7 linked regions of the Homo sapiens genome follow. The protein of the gene in region 5 interacts with the protein of the main gene of each other region in a pairwise test. Each region holds a gene or a part of one and is shown on either strand. Other genes may lie near its edges. The genes, in order: UBQLN4, SLC39A6, TMEM168, FAM20C, SPP1, SGTA and SGTB.

Region 1 (3,500 bases), on a different chromosome or scaffold from region 5:
AACCATAATTCTCAGACAGAGCTAAGGGGTTGGAGCCCATGCCTCTAAAGTCACCCTGCTGTTTGGAAAGGATGAGGGAGAAGACGGAAGGGAGGACAAGCTGCAGAGGGTAAGGATTGACAGAAGAACCGAATGCTGACATCGAGGGAGGGGAGAGGCAGGAGGCATGGGCCGAGGGATTAGGAGAGCTGGGAGCCCAGCAGTCTCTCGATAGCTGCGTTGATGTCCCCTCCTGTGGCAATCAGGGCCTGCAGGTTAGCCTCACGATTGATGAAGCCCATGGAGTTGAGCTGCTCCAGCTGCTGCTGAAATCTCACTTCTGGCGTCTGCACCTGGAGGGGACAGGCCTTGTGAAGTGGGCACAGGACCAATCTTGGGGGCCCTATTTGAATTAAGGGTTTCTAAGACCAGCAGGTCTTCTCTAATATCCTCAGAGTCAATCAGGAGGGCAGGGAAGATGAGCTGCAAATGGGGGCCCAGGAGCCTAGGTCCCAAGTCCTAAATAACTGTGTAATGGCCGGGTACGGTGGCTCACGCCTGTAATCCCAGCACTTTAGGAGGCTGAGGCGGGCGGATCACGAGGTCAGAAGATCGAGACCATCCTGGCTAACACGGCGAAACCCCATCTCTACTAAAAATACAAAAAATTCGCTGGGTGTGGTGGTGGGCGCCCTGTAGTCCCAGCTACTCAGGAGGCTGAGGCAGGAGAATGGCGTGAATCCGGGAGGCGGAGCTTGCAGTGAGGCGAGATCGCGCCACTGCACTCCAGCCTGGGCAACAGAGCGAGACTCTGTCTCAAAAAACAAAAACAAAAAAACAAACAAACAAAACTGTGTAATAATATGGCAGGCGGATATCTTTTTTAGATTTTCAAGATAACTGATAGGCCTAGATCAGCATATATTCCTCATTACTTTCCATAAACACTGGAGATGTTAACAGGCACTCCAAAAGCCAAATGTTCTATGGTCAAATAAGATGCATACTAAGCATGACCTCCAAGGCCCCTCCTAATAGTCATCACACGTACAGCCATATGAAAGGCTAGAGAAGGGTCCCAGTTAAGAAGCTATTTAATTTTGTTTCACTGATCAACAGTTATTTATAAAAGAGAAGTATTTCCTTTTTTTTTGAGACAGGGTCTTGCACCCAGGCTGGAATATAGTGGCAGAATCATAGCTCACTGCAGCCTCTATCTCCTGGGCTCAGGTGATCCTTCTCTCTGAGCCTCCTGAGTAGCTGGGGCTACAGGTGTGTACCACCTTGCCCAGCCAATTAAAAAAAAATTTTTTTTTGGCTGGGCATAGTGGCTCATGCCTATAATCCCAGCACTTTGGGAGGCCAAGATGGGCAGTTTGCCTGAGGTCAGGAGTTCAAGACCAGGCTGGCCAACATGGCGAAACCCCATGTCTACTAAAAACACAAAAAATTACCCAGGTGTGGTGGCGCATGCCTGTAGTCCCAACTACTTGGGAGGCTGAGGCAGAAGAATCACTTGAATCCGGGAGGCGGAGGTGCAGTGAGCTGAAATTGCGCCACTGCACTCCAGCCTGGAAGACAGAGTACATCTTAAAAAAACAAAAGTGCGTGGTGGCTCATGCCTGTAATCCCAGCACTTTGGGAGGCTGAGGCAGGTGGATCACTTGAGGTCAGGAGTTCGAGACCAGACTGGCCAACATGGCGATACCCCGAGACTAAAGATACAAAACTTAGTTGGGCATGGTGACAGGAGCCTGTAGTCTCAGCTACTCAGGAGGCTGAGGCAGGAGAATCGCTTGAACCCGGGAGGCGGAGGTTGCAGTGAGCCGAGACTGTGCCATAACACTCCAGCATGGGGGACAGAGTGAGACTCCATCTCAAAAAAATAAAAATAAAATAAAAAATAAAGAAAAAAATTTTTTTAGCAGAGAAAGGGTCTTGCTATGTTGCCCAGGCTGGTCTCAAGTGATCCTCCTGCCTTGGCCTCTCTAACTGCTGGGATTACAGGCATGAGCCACTGCACTAGGTCTTCTTCTTTTTTTTTTTTTTTTGAGACGGAGTCTCGCTCTGTCACCCAGGCTGGATGCAGTGGCATGATCTGCCTCCCGGGTTGAAGCGATTCTCTTGCCTCAGCCTCCTGAATAGCTGGGATTACAGGTGCATGCCACCAAGCCCGGCTAATTTTTGTATTTTTAGTAGAGACGTGGTTTCACCATGTTGGCCAGGTGGGTTTTGAACTCCTGGCCTCAAGTGATACACCCGCCTTGGCCTCCCAAAATGTTGGGATTACAGGCATGAGCCACCATGCCCAGCTTGCACTAAGACTTTTTTTAAAAGAAAAAAATTTTTACAGACTGGGTCTCCCCGCGTTGCCCAGGCTGGTCTCGAACTCCTGGCCTCAAGCAGTCCCCTGCCTTGGCCTCCCAAAGCACTGGGATTACAGGCATGAGCCACACTCCTGGCCTGGCTTTTTTTTTTTTTTTTTTTTTTGAGATGGAGTTTCACTCTTGTTGCCCAGGCTGGAGTAAAATGGCACGATCTCAGCTCACTACAACCTCTGCCTCCCAGGTTCAAGTGACTCTCCTGCCTCAACCTCTCGAGTAGCTGGGATGATAGGCATGCGCCACGACACCCAGCTAATTTTGTATTTTTAGTAGAGACGGGGTTTCTCCACGTTGGTCAGGCTGGTCTTGAACTCCTGACCTCAGGTGATCTGCCTGCCTCGGCCTCCCAAATTGCTGGGATTACAGAAGTGAGCCACCGCCTGGCTAGCTTGGCTTTTCATTCTTGTCATTCCTCTAATTATCTCCTGTAAATGTTTGCCCAAGGGGTATTTGGAAAGCACAAGCCTTGATTATGAACAAAAGACTCTTATAGTGGCCGGGTGCGGTGGCTGACGCCAGTAATCCCAGCACTTTGGGAGACCGAGGCAGGTGGATCACGAGGTCAGGCGATCGAGACCATCCTGGCTAACATGGTGAAACCCCGTCTCTACTAAAAATACAAAAAATTAGCCGGGCGTGGTGGTGGGCGCCTTTAGTCCCAGCTACTCGGGAGGCTGAGGCAGGAGAATGGCCTAAACCCAGGAGGCGGAGCTTGCAGTGAGCTGAGATCCGGCCACTGCACTCCAGCCTGGGCGACAGAGCGAGACTCCGTCTCAAAAAAAAAAAAAAAAAAAAAAAAGACTCTTATAGCTAGAAAGAGTCCAGCAAGCACCGTCCACCTGGTGTTGAAAGGAACAATGTTCGATCCAGAGAAAAGACAGGACTTGCCTGGGGTCACAGAGAAAGTCAGTCACTAAGGCCCCCTGACTTGCAGTATAAAAGCCCTTTCTGGACGGGTGTGGTGGCTCACGCCTATAATCCCAGCACTTTGGGAGCCCGAGGCAGGCAGATCACCTAAGGTCAGGAGTTCGAGACCAGCCTGGACAACATGGTGAAACCCCATCTCTACTAACAATACAAAAAAATTAGCCGGGTGTGGTGGCGCGTGCCTGTAATCCCAGCTACTCGGGAGGTTGA
Region 2 (4,273 bases), on a different chromosome or scaffold from region 5:
GACAGAGTGAGACTCCGTCTCAAAAAAAAAAAAAAAATTAAAACAACAACAACAACAACAACAACAACAACAACCATATATCAAAACAGTGTGGTCTAGGCACAGTGGCTCATGCCTGCTGTCGTTGGGTGCTGAGGGAAGGCCTCTAAAGGAGATACCTGATTTGAGACCTGCACAACAAGAGGAGGAATGCATGTAATGGTCTCAGAGAACGGTATTCCAAGTACAAGGAATAGTGAGTGCATGGCCCGGAGACAAGCCTTATGTGCTCCCAGCGTGAAAAGAGGGCCAGTGGGGCTGGAGCACAGTGAACAATGCGGGAGAGTGGTGGGCTCAGCGGGACCTTGAAGATCATGGCAAGGAGCTGGGTTGAAAACATGAATCTTAACTCAGTCTGTCCGACAAGATATGCCAAGCAAACAGCCAAGTTTCAGGAAAAACAGGAGAAACATGGTAGATACAACCTTAGGCAAGTGATCAAAATTACCACCACCAATAAGTGACAAAGAATCATATCAGGTGGCACACCATGTGACAGAAAAGGACAAGTACCATTTTGCGGTATTCCTGCCAAAACTGATCAACCTAATCATGCAAAAATACTAAACAAACCCAAAAGTAGAGGCAACTAAATGCAATATTTGATCCTGAATTGTACTCTGGAACAATATTTTGGTGGGGGTTGGGGGAGTGTTGGCATAAAAAGCACTATTAAGGCATTTGGAAGAATAACGTCTACAGAGAATGGCACTGTATCAGTATAAATTTCCTGATTTAATAATTAAACTCTGGTTATATGAGAGAATGTCCATTTTCCTAGGAAACATAAGTATTTAGGAGTAAAGAAACATCATGTCTATAACTTACTCTCAAATGGTTTAGAAAAAAAGTGTGTGTAGCTGGCCCTTTAGTCACTAAAAAATTAAAGAAAAAGGTGTGTGTGTAGACAGAGCTAGAGAAAGACAGTGTGGTAAAATAACTGGGGAATATGAGTGAATGGGATACAGGAATTCTTTGTACGATTCTTAAACTTTTCTATGAATATGAATTTACTTCAAAATAAAAAGTTACAGAAAAAATAAATGTAAATATACAAAAACAATGTACTCACTGGCAATATTTTACAAAGTATGAGATACTGCAAAAACCAAAACCAAGGGACATGGTCCCATTTCTTCCAGATAGTCAAGTTGCCTGCAAATCATACAGCAATGAACTCCCTCCAGCCCTAAAATTTATGCATAAGAACTTACGATCATCTGTATCTACTTTCTCCTCATTTGTTGAAAGTTGAGATTCATACTTGGACAACTGCTTCTTAATCTCCACATCATCATCATTTTCAGGTTTCTTCTGATTCTAAAATAGTGAGGGAAAACAATACTTTAAAACAGTAATTTGTTTATATGTACAGCTTTCAATCAATAACCAGGTAAGCAAAACACACAGAATGCCCCCACAGTCATCTACTCTTAAGTATGTTCCCACACTAGCAGCACACTATCTCCTGGGAACTTGTCAGAAATGCATACTCCCGGCCAGGCGCGGCGGCTCACGCCTGTAATCGCAGCACTTTGGGAGGCCAAGGCAGGCAGATCATGAGGTCAGGAGTTCGAGACCAGCCTGGCCAATACGGTGAAACTCCATCTCTACTAAAAATACAAAAATTAGCCGGGTGTGGTGGCATGCGCCTGTATTCCCAGCTACTTGGGAAGCTGAGGCACAAGAATTGCTTGAACTCGGGAGGTGGAGGTTGCAGTGAGCCAAGATCGTGCCACTGCACTCCAGCCTGGGTGACAAAGGGAGACACTGTCTCAAAAAACAACAAAAAAATCCAGCTAGGGGCATTTCCTTCAGGCATCTAGTGATCTGGTAACCACCTGCCTGGCTTCTTCCATGCCTCTTCTGCACACTGAAACCCCAAACTTCCCATACTTTTTATAACCTAAAACTATAGTTTTTTAGTTATTAAAACACTTTTCTTTAATAAAACACCATTAACATGATTTCTCTTTTAAAACAAGCCTCTATTAACCCTGAATTCATCACTGGGCTTTTTAACCATCCCAAATACCATACCAGAGATATTGTCCCTAAGTCCAAGCAGCCTTTATGTTGTGTAAAGGTCACTGTTTGAACAATGGTGTCTGTGTATCATCTACTTATACAGAACATTTAAAATAAAAGTTATCACATAAATAACAGATTTCTTATTTGCAGTACCTTTGAATATGATGATCACCACCATACCTAAGATTTCATTCAAGCTCTAATACCATATCAAGTGTCTATACATTCTTAGATTTTAAGAGCTTTTAAAGGCAAACACGGCCGGGCATGGTGGCGAACGCCTGTAATCCCAGCACTTTGGGAGGCCGAGGTGGGCGGATCACAAGGTCAGGAGATCGAGACCATCCTGGCTAACATGGTGAAACCCCGTCTCTACTAAAAATACAAAAAATTAGCCGGGCGTGTTGGCGGGTGCCTGTAGTCCCAGCTACCCAGGAGGCTGAGGCAGGAGAATGGCGTGAATCTGGGAGGCGGAGCTTGCAGTGAGCAGAGATCGCGCCACTGCACTCCAGCCGGGGCGACAGAGTGAGACTCCATCTCAAAAAAAAAAAAAAAGGCAAACACACACACAAATCTTTACACTTATCCTGAATATAATGCCTCAATCAGAGAAAGTACTTAAATATTTGTAAAAATAAATGAACTCAGGGTATCTTAAATCATTTATGCTGGTGCTTTATTTCTCATTGGGCAATTGTTCTAGAAAGTAGTTTAACCAATTCTTTCATTCCATAAGTATTAAGGGCCCACAGTGTTCCCTATGCTAAATGCTGGGAGCAGAACATAAAATAAGCCCCACAGTCTCTGTTCTCATGGAGCTTACTATCCACAGGGAGAGGGTTTTACACAGGTAATGATTATATACTTCTTTGACTATAATTTTTGACACATTTTACAATAGAAAAGAACAGAGTGCTATTAAGAATGTATAATAACATGACCTCAATAATTTCCAGATGGCCACTGAAAAAATATAACTTATACCAAGACCTAAAGATAGGTAGGAATTTGGTGGGGAAGGTTGGGGAGGCAGCATTCCAGGCAGGGAGTAGCACCAGGAAGGGGCCAGCACTGTTCTGGAACTCAAAGAAGTACAAGGTGGCCGGGGCCTACTAGGTCAGAGAGGGTGGCCAGAGATGAGGCTGAGGCAACTAAAGGAGATCAGACAATAGAACTCTGTTGAGAATAGTGGGCTTTGTCCAAAAACTAATGGAGCCACTGGAGGAAGGATTTTAAGTAGTGGTGTGCAACCTCATCATATTTTCATTTAAACAAATCACTGCCCGCTCTGTGAAATCTAGATTGGGAAAAGGAGGAAAACAAAATAACGTGGACAGGCTCCTATTAGGAGGCAGTAACTGTCACTCAGGTGGGAAGTAACCATGGCCTGGACTAGAATGACAGCAAGAAAGATGGAGAGGAATGGAGAGACCATGGACATATTTATTAAAACTTGGTTGGATGTGGGGATGAGGGGGATATCAGAGATGATTCTCTAGTTTTCGGCATGAACAATAACCTTCACTAGCAGAAGGTGAACCTTAAGCAGCAGAAGGCCTATAACCTAAAAATATGATATACAGAATCTCCCAGGGATGCAGGATGGATCTCTTAAGAAAAATCCTAAGTAAAATGCCCTGTTACGAGCTTGAAGAACTCCCCATACTCACAATATAATGAGTAGTAGTTTTCTTTTTGAGAGAATTAGATTAAAAATTATTAAGTAAGTAACTTTAATATCTGGATGCCTTTAACAAAAGATAAACTCAGCATATTCCAAAAAGGGAAGAGAACATGTAACATTTGCAAAACTCCTATGGGAAGTCTTCATCTAGAAATTATGCTTATTTGCTGTTTCATGCTCCTTAAACATTCAATATTTACTACCATCGATTATGTACCAGACACTATTCTACACATTGGAGACAGAGCTGTAAACAAGACAGAGAGATCCTGGCTTTTAAGAGCTTACATTCTAGTAGATACTATTTTAAAGCAGAGTGCATCAAACTACTCTGACTATGACCCACATTAATATATGTAATGTAAAATAGTAATATATAATATTATTGTTGCATTTAAAAATATTGGTTATGACATACAGATTGATTTTACAACTCACTAACAATCTAGAGTTATAACCTAGAGTTAAAAAAGAAAAAATTATTCTGTGTCAGATAACAGAGGGCCTATTTCTTGGAGT
Region 3 (4,273 bases), on a different chromosome or scaffold from region 5:
GAGTAAATCTAAGTCTTCAACTAGTGTCCAGTGGTATAAAGCAATGGACCTAAATTTTAATAACTTTTTAAATGCCTATTAATAGATAATTTCTTCTATTATTTATGTACCTTAAGTTAATAAAATTTGAACACAATTTTATTGACTATTTTTCAATACAGAAGTAAATATATAATTAAAATATTGCTTTTTTATTTTGTGTTATAATATTTTTAAAGAAGTTTTTTTAATAGTCCCCACCCAGATGTTCTTGAAACAGTGTAATCCTGCTTTTAAAAAACCTTGTCCAATATTTGTCATGTAAGAAAATACGAATAAGGAACAAAGAGTAATACTATCTACATTTGGAGACATTATCCCAGCTTTTAATTTGATTATTGTTTTAATGATAGTAAATATAATATTTAGAAACCAGGTTTTGATTTTCTAAGCTTAATTCTCAGTACTATAGGAATTTTAGAAAGGGTGATTTTTTACAAAAATCCTGCCACTTAGCAGCAACTATATTATAACTGATTCTTAGATAATCAGTTACAAATGACAGATGAGAATGTGATATAGAATGAGTACTTCTTGTTTTTTCTCCTACTTCAGTCCTGATGGTCAGCCAACACTGCTTCCCCCAGAACATGTACAGGAGTTAAATTTGAGGTCTACTGGCATGCTCAATGCTATCCAAAGATTTTTTGCATATCATATGATTGAGACCTATGGATGTGACTATTCCACAAGTGGACTGTCATTTGATACTCTGCATTCCAAACTAAAAGCTTTCCTCGAACTTCGGACAGTGGATGGACCCAGACATGATACGTATATTTTGTATTACAGTGGGCACACCCATGGTACAGGAGAGTGGGCTCTAGCAGGTAAACTCACCTTTGGCAGTTTCACTATTGTAAAGATACACATGTATATGTAGAAATCTGTACTTCACACACAGTCGTTAAATTTCCAGGATTCTTAGTTTACTGAACTATGCATATGACTCTAATTTGTTTTTCTTTGCTCTAGCATACCTGTTTAGCCTAATTTAATCTCTAATGATAAGATTGGGAATTACGTCTTATAGTGATTAGAAGGAAAAAAATGCTTTGAGACTTACAGTTTCCCTTAAAATATTTTCAGAATTGCTAAACATATTTTTCAGAAGCTGATAAACTCCTTTGACTAGTATCTTTAAGTTTTTAAATGTTATGGATGCAGATTTCAGTAGTCCTTCACATCTGTAGTTTTATTTATGTTATAAAGCTCACCAAAATTTTAAACAGCAGATCATGTAGTATGGTGGGAGTAGCACTTAGGTCAGGAGACCTTGGTTCTGGTCCTAATTTGCCACAGCTGTGTTATTTTAGGCAAGTTAGTTAACTTCTGTTGGCTTCAATTTTCTCATCTGTAAAATAAGGGGGTAATTGTAAATGACCATTGAGTTTTATTCTAAGGTACAAAATTCTGTAGGGATTTTTTTGCATTTGAAAAAACATAAAATAACTTTGGTTTGCATGCATTATGGGAAATAGAAAACTTCTTAGTTATTGCCAAGAGAGAAATGAGATCTCTTTATATCATATATAAATTTGTCAGTCTTTCCAACTATTAATAGAGAGAAAGTCAAGGGCTTTGTTTTATCAACTGTTACTTGTTTAGGACCTATAACAGAGCCCAATACATAGTAGAGGATCCTTAAGTAGCTGATAGATAGATGAAATCATTGAATAAATCATTAAAAAAGGTAATTTTCTTATTTTAGATTAGAAATAGTTATTTTAGATTTAATTACATGATTTTTTTTTCCATAAAAGTGTAGATGTTTTAAACCAAGAATATATAAATAATAAAATAGTCATAAATAAAGTGGAAACATTCAGGATAAAGAAAAAGATAAATAGAAGTAGTATGGAAGGACAGAGGCAGAGTTGCCAATATAAGAACTCCAGAAAGAGACAAACAAAAAGGTTAAGGTAGAGATGATTTTAAACTAGCATGATCTCATTGATTTCATGCCAGATTTGTAACTGAGGTTTTTATCATAAGGAGAAATATTTTTTTGAAATTTTTCTTTTTTGCAAATAAATATTGAATAACTCAGTGGCCTTCTAGTAGAAAGACAAGCTAATATTTATTGGGTACATTTTAAGCATCAGCTTACTGTACTTAGTACCTTACACACATTGTTAATCTTTATGTGAAATCCTTTGAGATAGATACCATCACTTCTGTTATCTTCATTTTTCAAACGATGAAATGGAAATTGAAAGTTGTTATGTAACTTATCTGTGGTCATACCACTATGTGATAGAACCATGATTTAAGACCAGATCTGCCTGATTCCTAAAGTGTATTTTTCCCCCCACTCTACCATGTTGCCTCCAAGGGTGAAAGCCATGATGATAAAGGAATGGCATGTTCTGGTTAAGTGGATATTTTTGTTAACATGGGTCACCCATTTCAAAACATTAGAATGTACAAGACTAAAAGATGCACTGAACATTAAAACTAATTGAATATAGTTTATAAAATCATTTACTTGACCTATAACTTTTTAATTACAACGTAGAAAGCATCTTTTTAACCTTTATGGCTACTTCAGTTTCAGGTAAAGTATAACGTTCTGTGTATTCCAACTCAGAGCACAAGAGAAAGCTTTTAGTCAATTAAAATAGCCTTTACAGAAATAGAATTTTAGATCTAAAAGCAGAGATTGCTGAAACTTACTATAATCCTTATGATAATAAACTCTACCCAGATCAAATGGAAAAAACAGGGCTAATTTTTGGTGGCCATGCATATATCCCTAGTTATTTTAAAGTGTTAGAGTAATTTTAGAAGTAAGCTTTTTATGTGTGTTTATATGAAGGATTTATTACTTAATAGAAACACTTTTCAAAAAGTTTGCATTTTTCTTAAGTAATTTAAAATTCATTAAGTATTTCTTAAAGATAGCTATGGAAATCAATTCTAGATGTTCATTTACTAATACTTATATCAGCTTTTTATTTTTCTAAGAAAAGTAAAAACACTAAGATAAACACACACACACATATATATATCTCTCGCAGTTTTTCTAAATTTTCATTCACTGTTAGGAATAATTTTTGAAGACTTTAAGAACACTAAAATAGAGTTGTATTTTAGGTAAATGTTTAGCAGTTACATTCTAGAATGATGTCTTTATAATTTTTTTGAAGTATGCTACCAGTAAATTGACCGTTACAGAATTCCTCTGTTAGCTAAGATTTGTTCTTGTGTAACTTTGAGGCTTATTATAAGAAGTTTAAAAAAAAGAGAGAGAAAGCATACTGATCTCCCTTCCCTGAGAAAGGTAGATTTTATCTTATAATTCAGCAACTGCATACTGTCATGCATGGCCTGAGGCATCTCGCATACTTGTGGGTAGTCAGGTTGAACCAGGCCCAGAAAAGCCCGCTTTTCAGTTAGTTCATGCCCTGGCCTGCTTTAGACGTAGTCCTCAAGGGCTGATTCTGCCTCACAAATAGTATTGAATATCTCTGCTCTGAGGAAAATACTTTCATCTATTCCAAATTAAGTGACAAAGAGCTTTAAGCTCTGCTAATTTATTAATAGTTGGGGATTTTTTGTTTTGTTTTTTGTTGTTTTTTCAGCAAACTTTGAAATAGGAAACATCACAACTGGATTTTACTTGGGTTAGCAAGTTGATAGCAGGCCCAGTATTAATATCGCTGTGGGAAAGAGAATCTATATTTGCCCTTTATCCCATACCTTCACTCACAGTAGTTAGAATATGTAGTCTTCTTATATTTATGGAGTTTCATGATATGGAACCTAATATTTTTGCCTCTGCTTGAGGATAGAAAACAATTATGGTAATTACAGGAGAGACAGAAATAAATGGAAAAAATGTAGATAATTTATAAAGCAGTTTATTACAAATAAAACCTTTAAAAAGCAGTCTCAATTACTTAAAATGCATCAGATGGATATTAGCTTAGATAAATGTAAGTACTTTGAATCTGGGCCAAAAGCCAAATGTAGCATAGAACCTATTCATAGGAGAAAGCAGAGCAAAACAAGAGAAATTGTTTAGAAAGCTTTAATGCTGCTTTAGGTCTCGTTGATATCTAAAGAGCATTTATATAAGAGAATTAGGGTAGAATATGCTCAAGAATGTTTATTGAAATAGTTGTGGATGGCATGTTGGGCAATGATGTTTTGTGGCAGATGGAATTTACATAATAGTTCTTGTAATCTGTGTCATCTTCTGATCTCTAGAGAAATTTAATAGAGCTGACAA
Region 4 (4,273 bases), on a different chromosome or scaffold from region 5:
AGGACGGACACAGAGTGGAGGCCCGAGGGGGCTCGAGCTGGATGGGCCTGGGGTGGTGGGCGGGTGAGGTCTGCGCCTCCAGGCCGCCGAGTGAGGGTGTGGGTTGAATTCAGGGCTGTGGTTGAATTCGGGGCCTTTTCTCTCCCATGTGATGGCCGGGGTGGGGTGGGGAAGGCTGTGGCCTCCTCTGTCTCCTGCGCAGTAGGGAGGAGGGTGGAGCTGGAGCCGGCTCCGGCAGGGGCTGTACCTGCAGCACTGCTGTAGCGGCACCAGGATGGAGAGCTCGTCGTGCGAATACTTCCCAAACCTTCCAGAAGAAAAGCAGAATTGTCAAGGGCCCCTGTACAAGGTTCCTAACAGGCTGCTGGGCTGGGAGCTGGGCCATGGGTCCACCTGCCTGTACCCGACACCCCAGGCAGTGGGTCCACCCAGCCCATCTCCAGCACCCCGGGCAGTGGGTCCATCCCACCCATCTCCAGCACCCCAGGCAGTGGGTCCATCCCACCCATCTCCAGCACCCCAGGCAGTGGGTCCACCCCACCCATCTCCAGCATCCCGGGCAGTGGGTCCACCCTGCCCATCTCCAGCACCTCAGGCAGTGGGTCCACCCTGCCCATCTCCAGCACCCCGGGCAGTGGGTCCATCCCACCCATCTCCAGCACCCCAGGCAGTGGGTCCACCCTGCCTATCTCCAGCACCTCAGGCAGTGGGTCCACCCCACCCATCTCCAGCACCCCAGTCAGTGGGTCCACCCTGCCTATCTCCAGCACCTCAGGCAGTGGGTCCACCCTGCCTATCTCCAGCACCCCAGTCAGTGGGTCCACCCCGCCTATCTCCAACACCCCGGGCAGTGGGTCCACCCAGCCCCATCTCCAGCACCCCAGGCAGTGGGTCCACACTGCCTATCTCCAGCACCCGGGCAGTGGGTCCACCCAGCCCCATCTCCAGCACCCCAGGCAGTGGGTCCACACTGCCTATCTCCAGCACCTCAGGCAGTGGGTCCACCCCGGGCATCTCCAGCACCCCAGGCAGTGTGTCCACCCAGCCCATCTCCAGCATCCTGGGCAGTGGGTCCACCCAGCCCCATCTCCAGCACCCCAGGCAGTGGGTCCACCCTGCCCATCTCCAGCACCCCGGGCAGTGGGTCCACCCAGCCCATCTCCAGCACCCCGGGCAGTGGGTCCACCCTGCCCATCTCCAGCACCCCAGGCAGTGGGTCCACCCCGCCTGTCCCCAGCCCTGTATGTGGGGTCCTGGCCTCTGGCCTGGGGAAGGGTCCTGGGCAGCCGAGTTGAGATGGCTCCAGGGAGCGTCAGCCCACAGTTTAGCTATTGAAGTGCCCAAAGTCCATCTCTCTGAGGCCTCCGAGCCTGGGAATGGACGTCCTCCTGCCCGAGTTACTCGCCTCCATGCTTTGCTTATTAGGGGTCACCCTCCCTGGTAACCAGGGTCTCACAGCGCCGCCCAAGACCCCCCGTGGCAGGCCAGCAGCGGCCGCAGAGGCCGCCTATCCCCCGCTGGCTGGCTCCAGGTACCGCGTGCAGGCAGAGGCCCATCTATTCTGCACGGTCCTGCTCTTCCTACCAGCAGCCTCTCCTGGCCTCCGTTTCCCAGGTAACACCAGCTCTGCCGGGACTTGGTCTGCAGCATTCCTGTGCCTCGGAGGTCCCACTCCCGGGGCGGCCCTCCCTCCTGGTTGGGGCCTGGGGCCGCCCTCTGCATCTGGCTCTGAGATGGGCCTTTGCGACATTCCCATCCCTCCACTGGAGGGTCTGCTCCCCCCGTCCCCAGGGTCTCAGGTGGGCTGCAGGTAGCTGGGAGGTGGCCGGCCCTTCCCTGGGTGTGCAGGGGCGAGGACAGGCTCACCCTCTTCCATTGTCTAAGTGGATGATGAACGTTTCATTCCCAAACTTCTCAAAAGTCTCGTAGTGGTGACGGTCCATGTTTCCTGCGGAGAGAGGCAGAAAGTGTCACAGCTCGTGGGGAGCCGGGCCACGTAGCTCAGAGGCCTCTGTGCTCTGCAGAGCGGCGTCTCCTCCTGCCAGCGTGACCTCTAAGCAATCTGGCCCCTTCACAGGCCACAGGACCGCAGCCGGGCCGTGCCACGGAGTGTGCCCTGCAGAGCCCTGCGTGCATCCGCTCCACGCAAGGCGAGTGACACGGGGACCCCGTGCCCCTGCGGGACGTACCCATGAGGAAGTCGAAGATCGTCATGTCCATGACGTCCAGGATGCGGTGGCTGCTGTCGTAGGGCGGTGTCTGCTTCACCTCCTCGCAGTAGTCAGGGTCCACCTCCCACCTGCGGGGAGCCAGCGTGAGACGGGGGGCCCAGGCCAGATTCTGGGGAGCCCGGCGCGTGCCATGAGGAGCAGAAGAGAAACACTGCGGCAGGGACCTTGGCGTCTGCAGATGGACCCGCCCGGGCTGCGGCGCTGAGGCTGCATTAGCGGGAGCACGGGTGTGGGAGGGGACGGAGCCGCTCTGCCCTGCCTCGGGGTGACCCCACCTGGAGCTGCCTTCACCTCTGGGCCCCGTGTTTTTTGCAGAGTCTCTGTGGGGAAACAGGACCTGGACTACACACTCACGAGGACAACGTGGGGCGGAAAGAACAGGGGCCGTTTCTCCCGCAGGAGTGAGGAGAGGGACGGGGCGAGAGCAGAGCTCAAACGCTGAGAGGCCCCGATTCGAGGGACCTGGTGGGCAGGCCGGCCCGGGTCAGGGAAGCACATGGAAATACTGGAGTAAGGACGCCCTCTGCCACCGTCTCATCAGGAAGCGGTCATCTCACACAGGCCAGCATCGCACAGCAGGCTCTGCACCCATCTCTGCCACCCCCGTGGGCGCCGACCCTCCCATGCCCGCCCAGGCCCAGCTCCCTCTGCCGTAGGGTGGCCGGACGCCAGCCCCCCGGCCCCGCACTCACTCGGCCTTCTTGCGCTTGTGGTAGGAACGCCGCCAAGGGTTCCGCCAGGTCTTCCTCTTGGCCAGGGACAGGTCGGGCAGGAAGGCCGCCAGCGAGCCCTCGATCTGGTCTGGCTTCCCGCACAGGGCGTGCTCCGTGGAGCAGTAGTAGGAACACTCGCCGTAGAAGCAGATGTTGTTGGCTGGGGAGGGACAGGCTGCGGGTTACCAGGGCCGCACAGGGCTGCGTCCTCACCTGTGGTCTCACGGCCCCCAAGGCCGGGCCGGGCTCTGCCTGGTGCTTCTCATGGGCAGGACTCACCCACAGTTCCCCATCAATCCCAGCAAACACCTCCACCCCACGGTACAGAAAAATGAACCCACAGAGCTGACGTCCCGAGGCCACACAGCTCCCCAGAGGCAGAGCCCGGCCTGAACCCTCGAAAATCAGGGGCTGGTCTATGGAAACCCTAGGGCCAACATTTAGTCTTTTAAAAAATGCATTCATATTGTCAAGAAAGTGAAGATACAATCCACAGAATGGTAGAAAACGTTTGCAAACCGCACATCTGAGGATCTAGCATTTAGAGTGTATGAAGAACTCTCATCACTCAATCACAAAAAGACAAAAAAAACTAATAAATGGGCAGAGGGCTTGAACAGCTGATTCTCCAAAGACGACCCTGATGGCCGACAAGCATGAGAAGAGACGGGCGCCATCGTGAGTCACCGGGGAGATGCAAATCAAAGCCACGGTGAGGCACCATCTCCTGTCTGCTGGGATGGCTTCCATCAAAAGAGCAGCTGCCGGCTGGGACGGGGGAACCGCCACCTCTGTGCGCTGCTGGCGGGGGGTGCACACGGCACAGCCACGGCGGAAACGGTCTGCAGCCCCCAACTGATTAAACACAGTGTTTCCACGTGACCCAGGAACTCCCCTCCCATGTAAACCCCTAAGAGAAGAGAAAACATTTCTATACAAAAACTCAGACACGAATGCTCACAGCAGCACCGCTCACCACAGCCGAAAAAGAGAGAATCCACCCAAATGTCCATCAAGAGAGGAGTGGACACGCCAGGTGAACATGGTCCATCCGTGCGATGACACGAAACGAAATGAAACAAGAAGAGGAATGAAGCCCTCACTGAACCCGAGAACCCTGTGCTCCGCGAAGGAGGCCAGACAGAGGAGGCCACACGTCGTATGACCCTCTTAATATGAAACGCCCAGAACAGGCAAATCCAGATAGACTGGGGGTGGGACGCTGCTCGTCGAGGGCTGCGGGGTGAGGAACGGTGACCGCCTGCTCATGGTACGGGGCTCCTTTTTGGGGTCAGCAGGACATTCTGGATTTAGACAGTGGTGATGGTT
Region 5 (3,372 bases):
ATTTCTCTTTTAACACAGGGATTAATAACATTCTGAAGAACATTTCTTACTTTGCAACAGAAATTATTTTTATAGATATTTTCAAGCCAAATATGTGAGTATAATCTTCATGTCAATAACATTGTTTTTCCTTATACATATTAAACATTATTTACTAAATTCAATGATGTAATAGATACAGATACATAATTATGAGACTGGTTTTTTTATTTGAAATGAGATTTATCAAAAGAGAAGAGTATCCATATTTTAATGTGTGTACTAAAATCTATAACCACTTTCCTATTAACATGGATAATTGAAAGGTGACTCTGTTATGCATGTGTGTATAAACTGCAGCTCAAAACTGCCCATTGAATTAAACAACTAATGTCTATCAAATTTCAAATTGACAAATATATTGGGTAATTTATCTAACTTGCTTTAATATTCTTAGTATATTCAAATTGAATCTTAAGGAAAATAAATTTACTCTTTGCTTAGCAAATATATGAATGATCCTAATAAAAAGAATAGTTGTCAAATAAACTATTTTATTAGGAAAGAAAACTTTCCTAAAGGCAAAATCTTAGCTTTGATATGCATTAATTAGATGCTTATTAGATATTAGATATCTACAAAATACCTTAAATAAATTGCAAGCAGATTAATGTTTCAAATAACAGGCATTAATAAACATCTTCTGTAATGCTAAACTTATCCGAGGAAACCTAGTATTTCTGATATTTAGTAAATACATGTTTTATTTATGAGCAAGTTTTAGACTGCCAATTAGCTGGAAAACTTGCTAATGAAATTTCATCAGAAGAGAATCCAGGCAATGCCTTCTTTCATCTCTTCAAGGCATGATGGGCCTCTGATTGAAAATGAGAACTTACCTCTTGTTTAAAGTCATTGGTTTCTTCAGAGGACACAGCATTCTGAAGAAGGAATGGCACGTGTTAGTGCGCATCACACATGCCTAGCTTTTTTATTCAAAAGTTAACCTTTTTAATCCAAAGCAGTTTTTATTTTTCAGCCTCATCTGTGGATGGCTTAACACAGAGAGAAGCCAACATGGCAGATCAGTCAATGTCCTAAGCACATGTTTGCCAGCAGGCAGGCAGGATTCATCTGAGCAGCCCAAATGGCCTGAGTGTGGCTATCTTTCATCACTGTAGTTTAATTATGAGAAGTTTAAAAATACCTGTGGGGCTAGGAGATTCTGCTTCTGAGATGGGTCAGGGTTTAGCCATGTGGCCACAGCATCTGGGTATTTGTTGTAAAGCTACAAAAAAGTTGCATGTTTATCATTATTAAAAAAAGAAATGTAGGGATGAATGGAAAAAACAACCATTCTTCACTAGTCTTGATGGAAGCATATAGTCACCCGGACCCTTAGGTACCTTTTTGTAATTTTTTTTTTTTTGCAGATTCATTTAACAAACTCTTATGTAGCACTTACTGTGGGCTAGGCACTCTTTCAAATTGCTTTACAAATATGAACTCATTTGATCCTTTCATTCCCCTATGAGATAGGTATCATTATTATTCCCACCTTACAGATCAGAAAACTCAGCCACAGTGCAGTTAAGTGGTAGGAAATGGCAGAGCCAGGCAGGGTTCAAACGCAGGCAAACTAGCTCTTAACACCGAACTTCACACTGTGCTTTCTTTTTGTATGTTTGCTGGCTGAATTTTCCTCTCAGATAAAGCACATCTAAACCAGAAGTGACCTTAATTACTGTTAATCTTCATTGTGTCCAGTCCATGGAACAAGAAGGAACTCTCTAAGACTGTGCTAATTCAGTATCCTCTAACCACATGGAGCTATTTAAATTTAAGTTAATTAAAATGAAATGGCTAGGCACGGTGGCTCACCCCTGTAATCCCAGCACTTTGGGAGGCCGAGGCAGGCGGATCACGAGGTCAGGAGATCGAGAACATCCTGGCTAACACAGTGAAACCCCGTTTCTACTAAAAAAAATAAAAATAAAAAAAAATAGCCGGGCGTGGTGGCAGGCACCTGTACCCCCAGCTACTGGGGAGGCTGAGGCAAGAGAATGGCGTGAACCCAGGAGGCAGAGCTTGCAGTGAGCCAAGATTGCGCCACTGCACTCCAGCCTGGGTGACAGAGCAAGACTCCATCTCAAAAAAAAAAAAAAAAAAAAAGAAGATAAAAATTCAGTTCCTCAGTTGCACTAGCCCACATTTTGAGTGCTCAATAGCCATATGTATCTTATCAGCCAATGTAGAAATATAATATTAAAATCATTGCACAAAAGTTCTATTGCTGTAAGGTGCCAAAGATGTAAATGAAATGGATTTTTCTTTAGCCAAGTTATTTATCTGGAAAATACTGATAATATGCTACTGCAAAGGAGTGGAAATTGCTCTGAGTAAGTATCATCTGATCTGCTGAATCATCCAGGGCCAATCATTACATTTCCCTGTCACTGAGAATGAGAACTCTGGGGGTTGCACAGAGTTCCTTCTGCAGCCACCTAAGGGGTGGATGAGTAGAGAGAGAACCAGTCAGAAGTACTTGGAGTTTCTCTCATGGCTGGCTCTAACCAGAGGAGCTTAGTATTGGGCTTCTCCGAAAGGTTTTGCTGAAAGAAGGGGTTCCTTGCTTTAAGAAGATGAAAAAACAGCCGGGCGCAGTGGCTCACGCCTGTAATCCCAGCACTTTGGGAGGCCAAGGAGGGTGGATCACGAGGTCAGGAGATGGAGACCATCCTGGCTAACACGGTGAAACCCCGTCTCTACTAAAAATACAAAAAATTATCCGGGCGTGGTGGCGGGCGCCTGTAGTCCCAGCTACTCAGGAGAATGGGGTGAACCTGGGAGGCGGAGCTTGCAGTGAGCCGAGATCACACCACTGCACTCCAGCCTGGGCGACGGAGCGAGACTCCGTCTCAAAAAAAAAAAAAAAAAAAAAAAAAGAAGGCGGAAAAACAGTGAGACCAGATGAGTTCAGAGTTTTTCTCTTCACTTTTTCATATCTATCTATCTATTCTCATGACACATGTAATACAGGCTCAGAGAGAATGGATGTATAAGTTACATTTATAATTTTTAAAAACTAATATGAAGAAAATAAAGGTAAGCAAAATGAATAGACTAAAAACCACCCAGTAATCCTAACACTCACAGATAACCAGTGTGTATTTTCAGGCATATATCCTTAGAGACTTCCCCAATTTTTTACTAGCTTTAAGTTTCTGGGATTCTAGAAGGCTGAGCCTTGAGCTCTTCACGTATTTCTTAAATTGTTATAGCTCCACGTGCCTTCTAAAATGCATCTTTGCCATATTTTCGTTTATTAAAAAGACGCTAATTCTTGCCTCAAATAGTATGACCTCTATCTTCTCTGGAGATGTTAATTTTTCT
Region 6 (4,273 bases), on a different chromosome or scaffold from region 5:
GCCCGGGCGCGGTGGCTCATGCTTATAATCCCAGCACTTTGGGAGGCCGACGCAGGCGGATCGCAAGATCAGGAGACCAAGACCATCCTGGCCAACACAGTGAAACCTGTCTCTACTAGAAATACAAAAATTAGCCGGGCGTGGTGGTAGGCTTCTGTAGTCCCAGCTACTCAGAAGGCTGAGGCAGGAGAATTGCTTGAACCAGGGAGTCAGAGGTTGCAGTGAGCCGAGATCACGCCACTGCACTCCAGCCTGGGCGACAGAGCGAGACTCCATCTCAAAAAAGAAAAAAAAGAAATGGGATCACATGCTGTGCGTCCTTTTGTGTCTGGCCTCTCTCCCTGAGTGTGATGTCTTCACGGTGCATCTGCGCTGGGGCCTGGGTCAGAGCCTCACCCATCCACATTCCACCGTGTAGATGGGCCATGCTGTGCTGACCATTTAGCGTGGACAGGCATTTAAGCTGTTTTTGCTTCTTTTTATTGTTTTATTTTTTATTTTTTATTTTTTTTTGAGACGGAGTTTCACTCTTATCGCCCAGGCTGGAGTGCAGTGGCGCGATCTGGACTCACTGCAACCTCCGCCTCCCAGGTTCAAGCAACTCTCCTGCCTCAGCCTCCTGAGTAGTTGGGATTACAGGTGCCCACCACTGCACCTGGCTAATTTTTTTGCATTTTTAGTAGAGACGGGGTTTCACCATGTTGGCCCAGGCTAGGCTTGAACTCCTGACCTCAGGCAATCTGCCCGCCTCGGCCTCCCAAAGAGCTGGGACTGCAGGTGTGAGCCACCGCGCCCGGCCTCTTCTTGCTTTTTGACTCTTGTGAATACAGCTGCTGTGAACATGTGTCTGGGTTTTGGTGGACATGTGTCTCTCTTGGGCACATATCTAGTATCAGGGTGGAACCGGCGGGTCTCATGGAAGCTGTGCAACTTTTGGGGGCCACCAGCCAGTCTTCCACAGGGGCCGCTCCCGACAACCCCACCAGCCGTGCTGTGCCTGAAGGTCAAGTTTCTCTGCACCTCGCCAGTCCCCTCGCCAGTCCCCCTTCCGTCCCCGTCCCCACAAGCCAGCGTGCTGGTCATCAGGGCAATTCCCTCAGCTCCCTGGGCCCCAGGGACCAGCTGGCCTCTGCGAGGGTCCCACAGCCCCGGAGTCCAGGTAGGGCGAGGTGTCTGTGGGGATGGAGGTCCTCCCTTACCTTCGGTTTTGAGGCGCTCTGCCTCTGCTGAGTCCTCCTCGGAAGGCGGGGTTCGCGCGGGGCTCCTCAGGTCCTGCGGCATCTCCTGGACCCGGAGGCAAAGGCGGCCCGCTGTCCTCTCCTCCCAACCTGGCACCCTCCGGCCTTAGCTTCCCTCGGGACGCCAGAGAGGGCCACCAAGTTCCGAAGGACCCGGGGGCTCTGCAGGGGACTCCTGGCCCCCCATCATGTGGCCCTGGGCGAGTGACCACAGCGCTATGTGTCTCAGGACCCGCCGATAGGGGGAGGAGGGCCAAGTGCTCCTGCAGCCACGTCCCCAGCCCAGGAGAGGATGCAGGCAGAGTGCTGGGGGACGATGAGAGCGGGGCTCCTGGGGTCCCCAGGGCTGCCTGCTGTTGCTGTTCTTATTTTGGGGGCAGTGGCTGGGGAAGCATCGAGGCTCACCTTGCCCGTGGCAGCCGCTTCAAATATCTCCGGCAGAGTCTGAGGGAGCGCAAGGTCACTGTCTTCTACCGTCACCCCAAACGCAGTCTCCAGGCACTGGATGGCGACTGAAGCGGGGACAGAGGCGGTCCCATTCATTGCACGCAGCCCCGAGGTTACGTTTTTGGGTCTAGAGGGCGGGGTTGGTGCTCATGCTTCCCCAGGTGTGTTCATTCCCAAGGACCCCAGAACGCAGGGGCCGCCGCCTGTGCTCTGGGCTGGGACAGTGGACCCTCTTCCTTCCCGAAAAGAAAAGCCAGACAGAGACGCCCCGTGCCCCTGAGAGCAGCAGAGGCCGTGGGCAGAGTGGAGCCCAGGTGGTGACCTCAGGCCTCTGTGGGGTCCCAATGCTGGGGCTGCCCGGCTGCGGCGTGGTGGGGGCTTGGCCCCACCTGGAGGGCCACGTCAGGGGTGAGGTGCCCCGGATGCTGTTGCACCTCCAAGGGCGCCTGGCCTGAGTAAGGAGCTTGAAGCCAGCCCCCAGTAGAAGGCCTGTATGACTGGGTCTGTACCAGGGCAGGACCATTGAGAGCAGGACAAGAAACAGCCACAGGGCCCCTCTCTCTGCTGGCCCACCTGACAGACTCAGCACCCAGGGGGCCCTCCCACCGAGCCAGACAACACTAGCCCTGGCCGCCTCCTCGTGTGGACCCAGGGTCCTAACCCAGGTCAGAAGTGGGGGTCAGCCACTTCCTGCCCAGCACTGTGTCAAGGACCCCGGGCACATCCCTACAGCTGTCACTGGGTGTCCATGCTACAGAGGCCTGGCAGGCCCAGGACACAGGTGAGCGAGGCATAGGTGGGGAAGGAGGACCTAGAGCAGAACCTGCAGCCACACGAGGGTGCCTCCCCGAGCCCTCCTTTCCCTCCGAGCCCCGGATCCAGGTGTCGCAGAAGCGCAAGCAAGACCAGCCAGGAGACCAAGGCACCTGGGGAGCGGACAGGCCATGCAGGATGCCAACGAGTCTGGGACTCTGGGGCGGGGCCAGCACTAGGAGAGCTTTTTCCCCGTGACCGATGGTGACACACACACACTGGGTGGTGAGAACATTCCAGAACACACCTTGGTGGAAGATGGGGAGATGGAAAAAAGCCACTGGAAGGCAGCTCAGCCTGAAGGCATCAAGCAGTGGTGGCGCCACGCAGTGGCAGGCGGGAGGGCTCAGCTCGGCCCTGGCTCCCACGGCCGGGGGCTGTGTGGCCCTGGGCAGACCCCTGCCCTCTCTGGGCTTAGCTTCCACCCCCAAAAAGCCAGGCGGGGGACCAGGCATCTACACACCAGGTGTCTACACGAGGCGACTGTGCTGGCCGCTGCCCGGGGAGAGGGGGAAGTGGCAGGCACCCACCTACCTTCCAAGCTCTCCTGAGCATCGGACGAGAGGCCCCCGTGCCGGAGCTGGTCATGCAGGAACTGGATGATGGCGTAGGCCAGGCGCTTCTTGTTGTCCATCTTGAGCCCAGAAGAGGTGATACCTGGGGGTGCAGGAAAAACCCCCATCAGGCCCCCTCACACTCCCCACTCCAGGCACCCCAGGCCTGCCCCTAACTAGCTGGGCCTCACTTTAAGGGTGCTGGCTGATCTCAGCTCCAGGACAGCCCAGGTAGAAAGGCCTTAATACGCCCATTTCACAGATGATGACCTGAGGCCCAGAGCTCACCAATCCGGCTATGCACACAGCCAGAAAGTGTGAGGCCAGCAGGCAAGCAGGGCCTGCCCTAGAGAACCCGCGTGCTCCCAGGGCCTCCTGAGCACTCCCAGGGTGGTACTGAGGCGCCACGGAGGTCCCCTCCGCCCCTGCTTCTGGCATGAGGTGGGTGGGGGCCAGGGATGCTGCCCAGCACCCTGCAGTGCCCAGGACAGCTCCACTCCAGAGAACGATCCAGCCCCAATGTCCACAGTGCTGAGAGGGAGAGACCTTGTCCTCAGCCAGAGCCACTGCCCCTTTCCTCAATTTACCTCTTTTGTGGCATGTCAGCAAGCATTTCTTAGGTACCCAACGGGGCCAGGTGTGCCTGCCCTGGTATCACTGTTTCACAGGACTTGCAGAGGACTCCCCCCAGGGACTTCTTGGGGACCCGTCTTGTTCCCCCTGGGAGGCCTACCTACCTCATTCCACCTCAGACCCCCCTCTAGTTCCCCCTCGGACACCCTCCTGTGCCCCCCTCGGACACCCGCCTGGTTCCCCCACCTGACACCCTCCTGGTTCCCCCAGCGGACACCCTCCTGGTTCCCCCAGCGGACACCAGCCTGGTTCCCCCACCGGACACCCTCCTGGTTCCCCCAGCGGACACCAGCCTGGTTCCCCCACCGGACACCCGCCTGGTTCCCCCCTCGGACACCCGCCTAGTTCCCCCCTCGGACACCCGCCTGGTTCCCCCCTCGGACACCCGCCTGTGCCCCCCTCGGACACCCGCCTGTGCCCCCCTCGGACACCCGCCTGGTTCCCCCCCGGATACCCTCCTGGATGCCCCCTCGGACACCCTCCTGGTTCCCTCTCAGAAACCCTCCTGGTTCCCCCTCGGACATCCGCCTGGTCCCCCCTCGGATACCCTGTCTTGTTCCTCATTCCCAGGACTTGACAGCTGCTTCT
Region 7 (4,273 bases), on a different chromosome or scaffold from region 5:
CACGAAGAACAGCTAATAGATGCTGGGCTTAATACCTGGGTAATGGGAGGATCTGTGCAGCAAACTACCATGGCAGACGTTTTACCTATGTAACAAACCTGCACATCCTGCACATTTACCCCTGCACTTGAAATAAAAGTTGGAAATAAAAAAACAGAACCCTGCTATAGCCTTATATCAATACTCCACTACAACCACCACCACAAAAACTCACTTGTTTCTAAAAAAAATTGCATAGCTACATAGTCTATGGAAAACATAGCCAGTAGAGGCAGAAAAGAAAGTATACTCACCATACTAATGAAGGCTGGATTATTTATCAAGCTAGCCATGTCAAAGCTCAGTCCAGTTCCTGTCTGTAAAACAATTATATCTGAGAATCAGTCCAGTATCTACAATTACAATAAATTGTGAATGACAGAAAATACTTCACTCATTTGGCATTAACAACTTACAGGACTGGATACCTCTCTTAACTTCTGTTCTGCTATTTTCAGATTTGACTTATAGGAATCATTTTCAGGGTCAAGATCTAATGCCTTTTGATAACTTGTAACTGCTTCTTCAAATTTATTCAAGGCAGTGAGGGCCAGCCTGAAGGGAATAGAATATAAGAATATCAGATATATGATTAAAGAACATCAGGACATCACAAACATCGTCAAACGTCTGTCTGTCTTGGTATTCAGTTCTAATCCAGATTACACTTAATTTATTCACTGTACTATGGCTCACGGGAGCAAAATTCCCTCCAACTTAAGATTCTATATATCTGAACTCACTCCATTCTGCTTGCTGATAACCTGGTTGTCCTATAGATCATGAATTTAATGCTTAGAGATTATCTTACTTACTCTACCATTTTTAAGCTTAATATGTAAAATAATTTGCTTTATAAATGCCTAGACTAAGTTCCAAAAGATGTGAGTTGACAATCATGTGGTCACATAAATCCATGATGCTAACACCATTTTTAAGGACTCTAAACTGTATTTGTGCTTCAAAATGGCCTACATGCTTTCTTCTTCCTAACAGAGGAACAATTAATATCAATTTTCCATTAAGAAAACAGGCTGTAGTTATTAGATAACTATTCCTGATCAAAAGAGGTAGATAAAATTAGCATCCTTTACAATTCAAATAACAAATTATACCAGGCACAAGTCAAAGAGGTATTAAATTTTAATGTTCATATTTACCTAGTTATAATTTACTTATTGAAAAATTATTATAGAACTAAACAATAACTGTATATATGGTGACATAGTATTAGGGGTTTCTGTTTGTTTTAGGTTTGTTTTAAACAAATTACTGTTTTCTTTTCTCTTTTTCTCTTTATCGGAACCTAATTCATTTTCTACCAGTCAACCATGTATGATACTTTATCAGAGTCCCCAGTTAATCAAGAGTCAAGTCAGTAACTATTTACTGAAACTCTATGATGTATAAGAATATTATTAAAATAATATCTAAAGATACTGAGGATCCTGGCTGGGCGCAGTGGCCCACGTCTCTAATCCCAGCAGCACTTTGGGAGGCCAGGGTGGGTGGATCACTTGAGGTCAGGAGTCTGAGACCAGTCTGGCCAACATGGTGAAGCCCTGTCTCTACTAAAAATACAAAAATTAGCCAAGCATGGTGGCAGACGCCTGTAATCCCAGCTACTAGGAAGGCTGAGGCATGAGAATTGCTTGAATCCAGGAGGCGGAGGTTGCAGTGGGCCGAGATTGTGCCATTGCACTCCAGCCTGGAAAACAAGAGCGAAATTCCATCTCAAAAAAAAAAAAAGATAAAGTTTTCTGTCTTTAAGAAAATTTCATTCTACCTGGGGAAGACAGGCAACAAGCATGCAAATAAAAAGGGCAATATTAAAGGAATGAATAGGAGAGCTGCTCAAAAAGTAGCCACATTGGAAAGATCTGAGTGATGTAAAGAAAGCAGTCATGAAAATGAGGGAGGAGCATTGTAGTGGAAATAGCAGTAAACAGAAAGGTCCCAAGAAAGATGCAAGCTTGGTATTCTTAAGGAACAGGACAAGGGCTGATGAGGAGGGAACACAGAAAACAAAGCATGGAGAGATGATGTCAGAGAACAGTTGGGTGCCAGATGATAGAGGACCATTGCTTGGAGTTTGAACTTTATTCTGGTTGCAATGGAGTCACATGATACAATTTGTGCTTTTGAAAGCTCACTCTGGCTTCTACGTAGAGGATCTACATGGGCAGAAGGGTAGAATGGAGGCAGGGAGATCGGTTAGGAAGCTATTGCAGTAGCTTAGGTAAGAGATGTAGTTTGGACTGGGGCTATATGTAAGATAGCGATCAACACTTGGATTCAAGATATATACAGAAACTAGAATTGACAGGACTTGATGACAGAGTATCAGTACTTATGTCAGGCGTAATAACAATGAAGGATGACTCTTAGGCTTCTGACCTGTGCATGGGATAGATAACTAATTGTACAATGTATTGAGATTGGAAAGATTTTGGAAGGGAACATGAGTTCTGTCTGGGACATGTTAAGTTTAAATACCTATTAAACATCCAAACATAGAGTTGAAGAGTAGTAGAATATATGAGTACGGAGTTCAAACATATAAATTAGATCCGATAATATATATAGTTGATTCTTATTCACAGTAGTCCTGTTCTATAAAGTCACCATGAACAATGAATTAGCAAATACTGAACAATTGTTCCTAGGGAAAATACAGAGTTAGGTTCCTGCAACTGTTGTAAATAGTCATATTTTCATCAACTGATCAATATATAATCTTGTTTTTATGTGTGTTTCTGATTAAAGAAACTTTATTTAATATATATATTTTATTCATTAGCATTGAACTCATAGCCAACGGCACTAACTCATGCCTGAATGAAGCTTGTCTCATAAATATATTTTCTCCATAAGGCACATTACAGTCCTCTTGCACTTAGGAATACTAGATAACACTTCAGCCTATAGTTGGGGGCCACTGTAAACAGCAAAATCACAAATAAAAGGCACAAAAATACAAAAAAAAATGTAGCACTAAATAGACTGTTTCAGCATGAGAGCTGAAACAAAAAGATAGAGCATCACCTTATTCACCCTCAGTTGAGATCGAGAGCATCAGAAGACACATTTTCACTAATTGTGCATGTACATGAATGACCACAGAAGCAGTGTAAATATTGATTTGGGGATTACAAATTAATTTAGCAAGTAGGCAAATTCATAAATACAGAATCTGCAAATAATGAGTATCAACTGTAGATGAATTTTAAAAGCATGGAGCAGGATAAACTGAGCAGAGAGAAGACAAAGAAACAGCAGCAGCAGAGGATGCAACCCTAAAATACAGCATTGTTTAGAGATGGTAGAGAGGAAGAACAAGCAAGGGAGACTGGAAAAGAGCATCCAGTAAAGTGGAAGGGGAAACAGGGCAAGTGTAGTGTCAGGATCCTAGAGAGTGATGTATTTTGACAATAAGTTAATAGTGGCCTGTAATCCCAGCACTTTGGGAGGCCGAGGTGGGTGGATCGTGAGGTCAGGAGATCGAGACCATCCTGGCTAACGCAGTGAAACCCCGTCTCTACTAAAAATACAAAAAATTAGCTGGGCATGGTGGCGGGTGCCTGTAGTCCCAGCTACTCGGGAGGCTGAGACAGGAGAATGGCGTGAACCCAGGAGGCAAAGCTTGCAGTAAGCTGAGATCGCGCCACTGCACTGCAGCCTGGGTGACAGAGCGAGACTCTGTCTCAAAAAAAAAAAAAGAAAAAAAGAGATGACAAAGATGAAACAGCAAGTACAGATAACCATCAGGGGCAGAGAACGAGGAACTGAGAAGTGGGATGGTGGCTAGAGGGGAACGCTGGGTAAAGGGATGGGTCCAACTAATGATTTTTTTTCTTTTTTTTGAGACAGGGTCTCACTCTGTCACTCAGGCTGGAGTGCAGTGACACGATCACGGCTCACCACAGCCTCGACTTCCCAGACTCAAGCAATCTTCTCACCTCAGCCTCCCAAGTAGCTGGGACTACAGGTGTACCCCACCACTCCTGGATAATTTTTGTATTTTTATAGAGATGGGGTCTTGCTATGTTGCCCAGGCTGGTCTTGAACTCCTGGGCTCAAGCATTTCTCCCACCTTGGCCTCCCAAAATGCTGGGATTACAGGTGTTAGCCACTGCACCTGGCTCAGTGAATGACTTTTTATGACCTGATCACATGCCAACCATTATCATCTATTAGAGATGGAAGATCTAATGTTGTAGAAAATGAAGGGGAT

The links.
Region 1: the proteins of SPP1 (region 5) and UBQLN4 interact in a two-hybrid assay, tested with the Homo sapiens proteins (2 studies listed by BioGRID and IntAct).
Region 2: the proteins of SPP1 (region 5) and SLC39A6 interact in a two-hybrid assay, tested with the Homo sapiens proteins (one study listed by BioGRID).
Region 3: the proteins of SPP1 (region 5) and TMEM168 interact in a two-hybrid assay, tested with the Homo sapiens proteins (one study listed by BioGRID).
Region 4: the proteins of SPP1 (region 5) and FAM20C interact in binary tests that used the Homo sapiens proteins (3 or more experiments, as listed by UniProt).
Region 6: the proteins of SPP1 (region 5) and SGTA interact in binary tests that used the Homo sapiens proteins (3 or more experiments, as listed by UniProt).
Region 7: the proteins of SPP1 (region 5) and SGTB interact in binary tests that used the Homo sapiens proteins (3 or more experiments, as listed by UniProt).

Annotation. Positions count from the first base shown.
Region 1 is NC_000001.11:156,036,799-156,040,298, forward strand, and holds part of UBQLN4 (ubiquilin-4), read right to left. Parts: intron 333-3,500; coding exon 180-332; 3' UTR 1-179. UniProt on the Homo sapiens protein: Regulator of protein degradation that mediates the proteasomal targeting of misfolded, mislocalized or accumulated proteins.
Region 2 is NC_000018.10:36,115,421-36,119,693, forward strand, and holds part of SLC39A6 (zinc transporter ZIP6 isoform 1 precursor), read right to left. Parts: intron 1,360-4,273; coding exon 1,254-1,359; intron 1-1,253. UniProt on the Homo sapiens protein: Zinc-influx transporter which plays a role in zinc homeostasis and in the induction of epithelial-to-mesenchymal transition (EMT).
Region 3 is NC_000007.14:112,769,377-112,773,649, reverse strand, and holds part of TMEM168 (transmembrane protein 168), read left to right. Parts: intron 1-594; coding exon 595-869; intron 870-4,273. UniProt on the Homo sapiens protein: Plays a key role in maintaining the cardiac electrical stability by modulating cell surface expression of SCN5A. May play a role in the modulation of anxiety behavior by regulating GABAergic neuronal system in the nucleus accumbens.
Region 4 is NC_000007.14:254,680-258,952, reverse strand, and holds part of FAM20C (extracellular serine/threonine protein kinase FAM20C precursor), read right to left. Parts: intron 3,105-4,273; coding exon 2,924-3,104; intron 2,300-2,923; coding exon 2,190-2,299; intron 1,949-2,189; coding exon 1,867-1,948; intron 308-1,866; coding exon 248-307; intron 1-247. UniProt on the Homo sapiens protein: Golgi serine/threonine protein kinase that phosphorylates secretory pathway proteins within Ser-x-Glu/pSer motifs and plays a key role in biomineralization of bones and teeth.
Region 5 is NC_000004.12:87,977,941-87,981,312, reverse strand, and holds part of SPP1 (osteopontin isoform OPN-a precursor), read right to left. Parts: intron 1,268-3,372; coding exon 1,187-1,267; intron 921-1,186; coding exon 879-920; intron 1-878. UniProt on the Homo sapiens protein: Major non-collagenous bone protein that binds tightly to hydroxyapatite. Appears to form an integral part of the mineralized matrix. Probably important to cell-matrix interaction.
Region 6 is NC_000019.10:2,765,937-2,770,209, forward strand, and holds part of SGTA (small glutamine-rich tetratricopeptide repeat-containing protein alpha), read right to left. Parts: intron 3,156-4,273; 5' UTR 3,133-3,155; coding exon 3,033-3,132; intron 1,751-3,032; coding exon 1,644-1,750; intron 1,285-1,643; coding exon 1,200-1,284; intron 1-1,199. UniProt on the Homo sapiens protein: Co-chaperone that binds misfolded and hydrophobic patches-containing client proteins in the cytosol. Mediates their targeting to the endoplasmic reticulum but also regulates their sorting to the proteasome when targeting fails.
Region 7 is NC_000005.10:65,680,201-65,684,473, forward strand, and holds part of SGTB (small glutamine-rich tetratricopeptide repeat-containing protein beta), read right to left. Parts: intron 595-4,273; coding exon 456-594; intron 357-455; coding exon 294-356; intron 1-293. UniProt on the Homo sapiens protein: Co-chaperone that binds directly to HSC70 and HSP70 and regulates their ATPase activity.